3 linked regions of the Homo sapiens genome follow. The protein of the gene in region 1 purifies or fractionates together with the protein of each later gene. This does not show direct contact. Each region holds a gene or a part of one and is shown in the gene's direction. Other genes may lie near its edges.

Region 1 (2,825 bases):
TTCTTTAATCTGCACACTTTCTAGATAGATTTTATTTTTAAGTGTCCTCAGCATTGCAGAAAATAACATTGTAATAGCAAGTAAAGGCTGGAGGCTGTTTCTCTGGGCTTCAAATGGCTGGCAAGGCTGGCTCTCAAATCCCAAAGTTGGGAGGCATGTTTCTGAAAAGCAACTGAGGTGTGACTGTTTGGACCCAGGCCTCATCATCAGGGGTCCTGGAGGAAGCCTCCAAGTAGAGGGGAGACCTGGTAGTTGAATAGTTGTTTAATCAAGCCAAATAGTCCCACTGCCCCCGGTCAACAAACCCACTTTTATGACAGTTTTCTTCCGCAGCTTGGCTCTTAAATTTTACTGGCAGGTGTATGGTTGTTGGAGGGTTCCTAGTGAGTTGGGGGACCTGGCAATAGAGCTGCTTGGTTGGAGGAAGTGAAGCTGGCTTAGTACCAGCAGCTGATCTCTTCCACGTGCTGCTGCTTTTTTTGCCACTCTGATACTAAACCAGAGAAAGCTGCAGGTGGATAAAGAAGCTGTGGCTGTTTTTTGCTTTTGGGTGGCAATGAGAAAGAGTCACAGTGTGGGTTAAAGGGATCTGCAGTGGGGCCAAGGATGCCACCCCACCCTCAGCTGTAGGCAAGCTTGCACATAAATAACCCCCGTCAGTGGAGTGTTCGGGATGCAGGGGGCACTATAGTGTTCTTGGACTTGTCGTCCTGGGGCAGTTTTAGTTCTTTATATTTAGTGGGTCAGTGCCAAGTGCTACCACTTCCCAATAAAGGAATGGGGACCCAGAGGCTGGGTCCCTGGCTACCTTGTTATGAGGTTTTGTTATTTCTCTGACAAGATTGCTTTGGAAAGAGCTGCTTTTAGGGATTATTTTTTGAATACCCCGAGTGGGGAGCAGGGTTCTCCTCAAAGCCTCACAACCATAGGATCATAGGAAAGGGGCCCTATTTTCCTGCTGCTTCCCAGCTCAGAACATATACTGAATGGAATGTATTTTTAAGAGAATAAAGTCTATTTTTTTGTATTTTAAAGATTGAGAGGGCTAAGAAAGTAGCCCTCAAATAAACTGTTATTGCATTATAGGCCCCTTTGTTGGGGGCAGCCTGTTGGTCCACACCTACTTGCTCAGGCAGGTGCTCTGGTCTCTCTCACCCCTGCCCCTTAGAGTCTAGGTGCAGCAGCTCCAAGCATGGGACCAAGGAGGCCAGAACCTGTCGCTGGAAACCAGGGCAAAGCAGTGGCTCAGGGCTCCTTGGGTGCATGTGTATCATTGGAGCTGCCTGTCTGCATGTATCCTCTGGCGCGAATGCTCTCTGTTGGCTCTGCAGTACAATATGTAACCAATAAAGCTCCCTCGTTTCCGTATACTCTGTGCGAGTCTGTGATGCCAGTTTTGTCAATGTCATCCCTGTGTATCATCTGTCTTCTATGCGTTGGCGCAGCTCTAGTATATTTATTTATTTCATTGTGTAATACTTAAAATTGGGTATTTTACCTAACCAATTACTGATACTGCAAGGACTGGAAACATTAACTGCCCTGATCCTGGTGTGCAGATTCTTTCCATTACTGCCACGAATTCTAAGACTAGGGGGGGAAAAGCCTTCTCCGTTTTCATCTTCCAGTCAGATCACCAATATATATAATGATGTCCCTTAACTCACAGTAAGAAAGAATAAAACCACATTTAAGGGACATTACTTGGATTTGCAGTAACAGTGTTTATCATCTATCTGTCAGTCAGTCAGGAGCCCCTGGGAAGGAACCAGCATGTAACATGTTTTTATCATCTTATATGGCAAAAGGGACTTTGCAGATAAGGATGCTGGGATGAGGCAGAACATCCTAGATGATCCAGGTGGGCCTTAAATGTAATCACAGGTAGTATCCTTTTAAGAGAGAGACAAAAGATTTGACTACAGGAGAAGGCAATGTGATGATGGAAGCAGAAACTGGAGTTATGTGCTCTGAGGATGGAGGAAGGAGCCACGAGCCTTCCCACACCTAGAAGCTGAAAAGAGCAAGGAAATGAACTGATCCTCCCTGCTCTGAGAGCCTCTGTAATGAATGCAGCCCTGTGTACCCATTTTAGACTTTAAGCTTCCAGAACTTTCGAATAGATTTCTGTTTTTTTAAGAGCCACTAAGTTTGTGGCAATCTGTTAAACCAGCTGTTACCTAAGCCCTTGATCCTATGTAGTGCGCTTCCCAAAATGTACACCACCACCTTTAGTAGAATTGGGAAGTTTTAGCACATACCCATGGAGGGAATCAGGAATAAAGGCAGACTGGTCTCCCAAAGGCTCAGACTTTGTTTCAGCTCTTTTGTGTTCTATCTTGAAAGTGCATCCAAAGTTTCCTAATAACCATGTTCTTGGCACACCACCACACTCCACCCCCACCCAAGTGAGGAAGCCTAGTCCGACTGACCAGGAAGTCCACTGCTTCTACAGGACCGGCCCCCCTACCTTATCTTCTGACCTGATCAAACCATTTTTCTCTTTTATATGAACATCTTCTTCCTTATTTAAACATGGAGAAAACATGTATTACTATTGCCATAGGATAAACTTGGCATTTCCAAAGGAGTAATGCCCCCATCTTGTATGTAACTCCAACTCAAAGGAACAAAAGAGAGGGCCAATTTTATATGAAGTTTTATTCTCAAAATATAAAAAAAAAACAAAAACCCCACACACCAAGGGACTAAGATGATGTTATTTCACAGCACTTGCTTGCCTCAGTCTTTACGAAGAACACAATTCCAAACTAATGGACAAGTTCCTCCCTGTGCTCTAGGTCATTCAAAGGAGGCAAGCTCCT
Region 2 (3,661 bases), about 72 Mb from region 1:
TAAGGAACACACGGAACACTTGAAAAACAGAAGCTAATGTTGAATACGAGTTTACTTAGAGAGTTTGGAGTAATGCAGGATTATCCTGGTGGCTCAAAACGGGGAGCCACAGCTGAAATTAGGGAGACTGTTGTAATCACTGGGGACAATAACCAGGAATTGTCTGCTTCCAGGTTTGAACAAGCTCTGTGATGATAATACATTGTGAGAAGGAATCCATGTGAAAAACAAGCAGTCTTCATTCTTCAGTAGATTCTGGAATGTCCTGGGTGTAATGGGGGCATCAGACAGTTCTTGTACATGAATGTCATCACTCTACCTCATGGCAGATGTGCCCCCATCTTTTTTTCAAATGGTACTTGAGCTGAATGCTCTCGGCGTACACCGAGAAGTACCATTCAACAGCGCAGGAATCGAGCTTTTGGGTCAGCTGTGGAGGTGCTTTTTGAAGCTAGGTCTCCCTTTACTCTTTCTCCCTTTCTGAGGGTTCTTAGGGGGAAGCTTCTCAAATTTCAGAGCCAGGGAGGGGCATGGCTGTTTCCCAGCAGCTGGTAGGCTTGTATCTGCTCTAGTGTCTGCCTTCACTGTTAGGACACATAGGCCCTCGGGGTTGTGTTTCTGAAGGTGGTCTTAGTCCAGAGCTCTTGGATATATGATTAATAGTGATATGTGATATGTGTGCCTGTGGGCTGGAAGAATAATTGGCTGAAGGATAGGCCCTTCCCTCTGGGAATGGAGTGTGATTTGTGGGGGGAGAGACTTGTACATTTTAGTGTTATCTCAGTGTTTCTTAACCTTGTTTTCATGATCACCTTCTCCAAGAGTTGTTTTAGACATTGTTCCTAGTTACCTCCTATCCCTTGCTAGATTTAGTACAAAGGAATAAGATTTTGTTGGGTAGAGTTGAGCTTTGGAGGGTCCCAAGTTTTTGTATTGTCTTAAGATTTTTTTCACCATTGGTAGAAACCACCACAAGAAACACTTTTCACCTCTTTGGGACACCACCACCCCTGTTGAGAATGCATGCGCTACATACTTGTATATCATTTATTTGTTTATTTTTGTTTTAAAGACAGAGTCTCACTTTGCCACCCAGGCTGTAGTGCAGTGACATGATTATCAGTCACTGCAACCTGGAACTCCTGGCTTCAAGCAATCCTCCTGCCTTGGCCTCCCAAAGTGCTAGGATTACAGGCATGAGCCACCCACCTGGCCTATTTTTTTTTTTTTTTTTTTAAAGAGACGGGCTCCCTATATTGCCCTGGCTGGTCTCGAACTCCTGGGCTCAAGGATTCCTCCTGCCTCAGCCTCCCAAAGTTGCAGGATTACAGGCCTGAGCCACCATGCCTGGCCCAGCCTAATTTTTTTAAAAAAATTATTATTTTGGAATTGGCTGGGCGTAATCCCAGCACTTTGGGAGGCTGAGGTGGGCGGATCACCTGAAGTCAGGAGTTCAAGACCAGCCTGACCAACATGGCGAAACCCCATCTCTACTAAAAATACAAAAATTAGCTGGGTGTGGTGGTGGGCACCTGTAATCCCAACTACTCAGGAGGTTGAGGCAGGAGAATCGCTTGAACCCGGGAGGTGGAGGTTGCAGTGGGCCAAGATCACGCTATGGCACTCCAGCTTGGGTGACAGAGCGAGACTCCGTCTCAAAAAAACAAACAAACAACAACAAAAAACCAATTATTATTTTAGAATTACAAAAGAAAGTGAGGGCTAAAGAAAGGTCATGAAACAAGAAAGGACTGATCTGCATTTGAACTGAAGGGTGACTCCACACTGGTGCTCTTAGCTGTCCTGAGGAGAGAGCCAAGGGAAGCTCTAAGGGCTGAAGCCGCCACCACGACCACAACAGGATGAGCCCTGGACCCAGGCACAGGAACATGAAGAGGAGCAGGTGAAGCTGTCGGAGGAGCGAGAGCAGAGCAGGCCAATCGCTGAATGTAGGGAGGAGGATCAGCTGTATCCTATGCCCTAGGAGGCTTTTTTCTTGGTCTTCATTATCTTCACATGTTGATTGTATCTGGCTAGAGGGATGTTGGAGAGTTTCGGGGAGGAGTCTCCAGCAGGTGTGCCTAGACAGTATTCTCCTCGGTCTCTGGATCATTTGTAAGTGCTCCTTGATGCAAAGAAGGCTGTCAGGCACTGCTTGGAGAATGTGTGCGTGTTTAAGAAAGGAAGGTGGGCATATAAAGAGAGGGGCTGCTGTGGATTTGAAAGAGCCAGGCAGAAAGTCTGCGAAAGCAGCTTGGGAAGGCCAAGAAAATAAATCTTGAAGAAGAATAAAGAAAAGGATGTTTATCAACAACTTGGAAGAGTAATTTTTATTTTATTTTTATTTCTTATTTTTGAGACGGAGTCTTGCTCTGTTGCCCAGGCTGCAGTGCAGTGGCACCATCTCAGCTCACTGCAAGCCCCGCCTCCCGGGTTCACACCATTCTCCTGCCTCAGCCTCCCAAGTAGCTGGGACTACAGGCGCCCGCCACCACACCCGTCTAATTTTTTGTATTTTTAGCAGAGACAGGGTTTCACCGTGTTAGCCAGGATGGTCTTGATCTCCTGACCTCACGATCTGCCCACCTTGGCCTCCCAGAATGCTGGGATTACAGGCGTGAGCCACTGCGCCCTGTCAGGAAGAGTAATTTTTAAGTAAATTAGAGTGAAATTTCCATGAAGTATTAATGAGGTAAGTTTAAGCAATTATTTTAAGCTAACTTTCTTTTGTTGAGAGAAAGAAAATGTCAGCGTTTTTCTGCCAGATGTTGAGAAATTAAAGCTTTTTAGATGAAGATAGTAAATCATTTTTATTGGCCAAAGATTACTTTTTTAAATTGCTCTCAGTTCCTTGATTTTAAAAGATAATGCTGTTTAGCTGGCCTGACTGCATAAAGCTCACTTACTAGAAAAATATTCGAAGTATTTGGATAGGAGAATCCTGTTGCTCCTTTACTTAAAGGAAACCCTTAGCCCACACCAACAGTTATTTGATGTGGCTGCATTCCTAGTCTTAATTTTTAATTGATCATATGGGGCTTTGAGTTTTGCATGCTTGTACATACGAATTTCTTCTGTGCACGTGGTCATATGGTAAGTCTCAAGGACAGCATCACCTGTCCAGAGCTCCCCCCCACAACCACTCATTGGTAGAGCCAGGATTTGAACTGAGGTCCATCTGACTCCAGTGCTTGATTTTTCTATCTCATCACTTCCTTGACAAGAACTGTCAACAGAGAAGGTGAAAACTTCTTACTGGGATCTACTAGGATATTTCAAGTTAGGTCTGTAGTCACTTCGTGGTTTGGGGCATGGCACCAAATCTGTTGGACACATTTTGAACAAAGGATGCATAAATATGCTTTTAATGTTTTTCTGCTTAAATATTAATTGATGTCATTTGGTATGAGAATTACCATCACCATCCTGTGAAATATCCCAAACTACTCTAACATAATTTTTCTCTACATTTGAAGAAACGAGAAAATACTTCTTCAGTTTTTTATTATTTGACCAAATTGTGTAGATAGCTGAGAGTAGGAACGGACCTAGTGCAGGCATCCAGTTTAGACTTCCTCTTGGATCGAGAGAAGTTAGAGGAACTAACCCAGGCCCATAGCAAAGATAGATGGAGCCAGGCATGGCGCCAAGGCAGAACTCC
Region 3 (2,746 bases), on another chromosome or scaffold:
CATACAAGTGTAATGAGTGTGGTAAGGCTTTTAATCATCAATCAAGCCTTGCACGTCATCATATACTTCATACTGGAGAGAAACCTTACAAATGTGAAGAATGTGACAAAGTTTTCAGTCAGAAATCAACCCTTGAGAGACATAAGAGAATTCATACTGGAGAGAAACCATACAAATGTAAGGTTTGTGATACAGCTTTCACGTGTAATTCACAGCTGGCACGACATAGAAGAATTCACACTGGAGAGAAAACTTACAAGTGTAATGAGTGTCGCAAGACCTTCAGCCGCAGGTCATCCCTTCTATGCCATCGTAGACTTCATAGTGGTGAAAAACCTTACAAGTGTAATCAGTGTGGCAATACCTTCCGTCACCGGGCATCCCTTGTATACCATCGTAGACTTCACACTCTAGAGAAATCTTACAAATGTACGGTTTGTAACAAGGTTTTCATGCGTAATTCAGTCCTGGCTGTACATACTAGAATTCACACTGCAAAGAAACCTTACAAGTGTAATGAATGTGGGAAAGCTTTTAATCAACAATCACATCTTTCACGTCATCGTAGACTTCATACTGGAGAGAAACCTTACAAATGTGAAGCATGTGACAAAGTTTTTGGTCAGAAATCAGCTCTTGAGTCACATAAGAGAATTCATACTGGAGAGAAACCATACAGATGTCAGGTTTGTGACACAGCTTTCACGTGGAATTCACAGCTGGCACGACATACAAGAATTCACACTGGAGAAAAAACTTACAAGTGTAATGAGTGTGGGAAGACCTTCAGTTACAAGTCATCACTTGTATGGCATCGTAGACTTCATGGTGGAGAGAAATCTTACAAATGTAAGGTTTGTGACAAGGCTTTCGTGTGTCGTTCCTATGTGGCAAAACATACTAGAATTCACAGTGGAATGAAACCTTACAAGTGTAATGAGTGCAGCAAGACCTTCAGTAACAGGTCATCCCTTGTATGCCATCGTAGAATTCATAGTGGTGAGAAACCTTACAAGTGTAGTGAGTGCAGCAAGACGTTCAGTCAGAAGGCAACCCTTCTATGCCATCGTAGACTTCATAGTGGTGAGAAACCTTACAAGTGTAACGACTGTGGCAATACCTTCCGTCACTGGTCATCCCTTGTATACCATCGTAGACTTCATACTGGAGAGAAATCTTACAAATGTACGGTTTGTGACAAGGCTTTCGTGCGTAATTCATACCTGGCAAGACATATTAGAATTCACACTGCAGAGAAACCTTACAAGTGTAATGAATGTGGAAAGGCTTTTAATGAACAATCACACCTTTCACGTCATCATAGAATTCATACTGGAGAGAAACCTTACAAATGTGAAGCATGTGACAAAGTTTTCAGTCGCAAATCACACCTTAAAAGACATAGGATAATTCATACTGGAGAGAAACCTTACAAGTGTAATGAGTGTGGCAAAGCCTTTAGTGACCGGTCAACACTTATTCACCATCAGGCAATTCATGGTATAGGGAAATTTGATTAATATAATGATTGTCACAAAGTCTTCAGTAACACTACAACAATTGCAAATCATTGGAGAATCCATGATGAAGAGAAATCTTCTGAGTGTAATAAATGTGGCATGTTTTTCAGACATTGTTCATACATTGCAGTTCATTGGCAACCTCATACTGGAGAGAAACCTTACAAATGTCATGATTGAGGCAAGGTCTTCAGTCAAGCTTCATCCTATGCAAAACAGGAGAATTCATACAGGAGAGAAACCTCACAAGTGTGATGATTGTGGCAAAGCCTTTACTTCACATTCACACCTCGTTGGACATCAGAGAATCCATACTGGACAGAAATCTTGCAAATGTCATCAGTGTGGCAAGGTCTTCAGTCCGAGGTCACTCCTTGCAGAACATGAGAAAATTCATTTTTGAGATAACTGTTCCCAATGCAGTGAGTATAGCAAACCATCAAGCATTAATTGACATTGGAGTCAATTCAGCATTGACTTGAGTTTGTGTTGACTTAACATTGAGTTCAAGCCTTAATTGACATTCAAGTGTTTATGTTAAGAGGATGGGGCCAGGTGTGGTGGCTCAGGCCTGTAATCCCAGCACGTTGGAAGACCAAGGCACATAGGTCACTTGAGGTCAGAAGTTTGAAACCACCATGGCCAACAGATGTCGGCCACTTTCGCCATCCTGTTTTTTGTTTCTTATTTTCTTATTTATTTATTTATTTATTTTGAGATGGAGTGTCACTCTTGTTGCCCAGCCTAGAGTGCAATGATGTGATCTCAGCTCACCACAACCTCCGCCTCCCGGGTTCAAGCGATTCCTCTGCCTCAGCCTCCCTAGTTGCTGGGATTACAGGCATGTGCCACCACACCCGGCTAATTTTTTGTATTTGTAGTAGAGACGGGGTTTCTCCATATTAGGCTGGTCTTGAACTCCCAACCTCAGGTGATCTGCCCACCTTGGCATCCCAAAGTCCTGGGATTACAGGCATGAGCCACCGTACCCGGTCTTGTTTCTTATTTTCTATTTTTTATTTTTTTGAGAGGCAGGAGAATGGCGGGTGAACCCAGGAGGTGGAGCTTGCAGTAAGCCCAGATAGCACCATTGCAACTCCAGCCTGGGAGACAGAGTGAGACTCCGTCTATTAAAAAAAAAAATTATAAATAAAAAAATGTATTTTAACCAGTTAGTCTGGTTTTCAGTTTCCTTTCCTTATGTCATTTGTTAAAATCTTCAGCTG

What was found.
Region 2: the proteins of LUZP1 (region 1) and CNN3 purify together in Homo sapiens (co-immunoprecipitation; one large-scale study listed by IntAct). This does not show direct contact.
Region 3: the proteins of LUZP1 (region 1) and ZNF808 fractionate together in Homo sapiens (co-fractionation; one large-scale study listed by BioGRID). This does not show direct contact.

What each region holds. Positions count from the first base shown.
Region 1 is NC_000001.11:23,083,508-23,086,332, reverse strand, and holds the end of LUZP1 (leucine zipper protein 1), read left to right. Parts: 3' UTR 1-2,303; downstream 2,304-2,825.
Region 2 is NC_000001.11:94,906,555-94,910,215, reverse strand, and holds part of CNN3 (calponin-3), read left to right. Parts: intron 1-3,661. UniProt on the Homo sapiens protein: Thin filament-associated protein that is implicated in the regulation and modulation of smooth muscle contraction. It is capable of binding to actin, calmodulin and tropomyosin. The interaction of calponin with actin inhibits the actomyosin Mg-ATPase activity.
Region 3 is NC_000019.10:52,554,109-52,556,854, forward strand, and holds the end of ZNF808 (zinc finger protein 808), read left to right. Parts: coding exon 1-1,520; 3' UTR 1,521-2,228; downstream 2,229-2,746.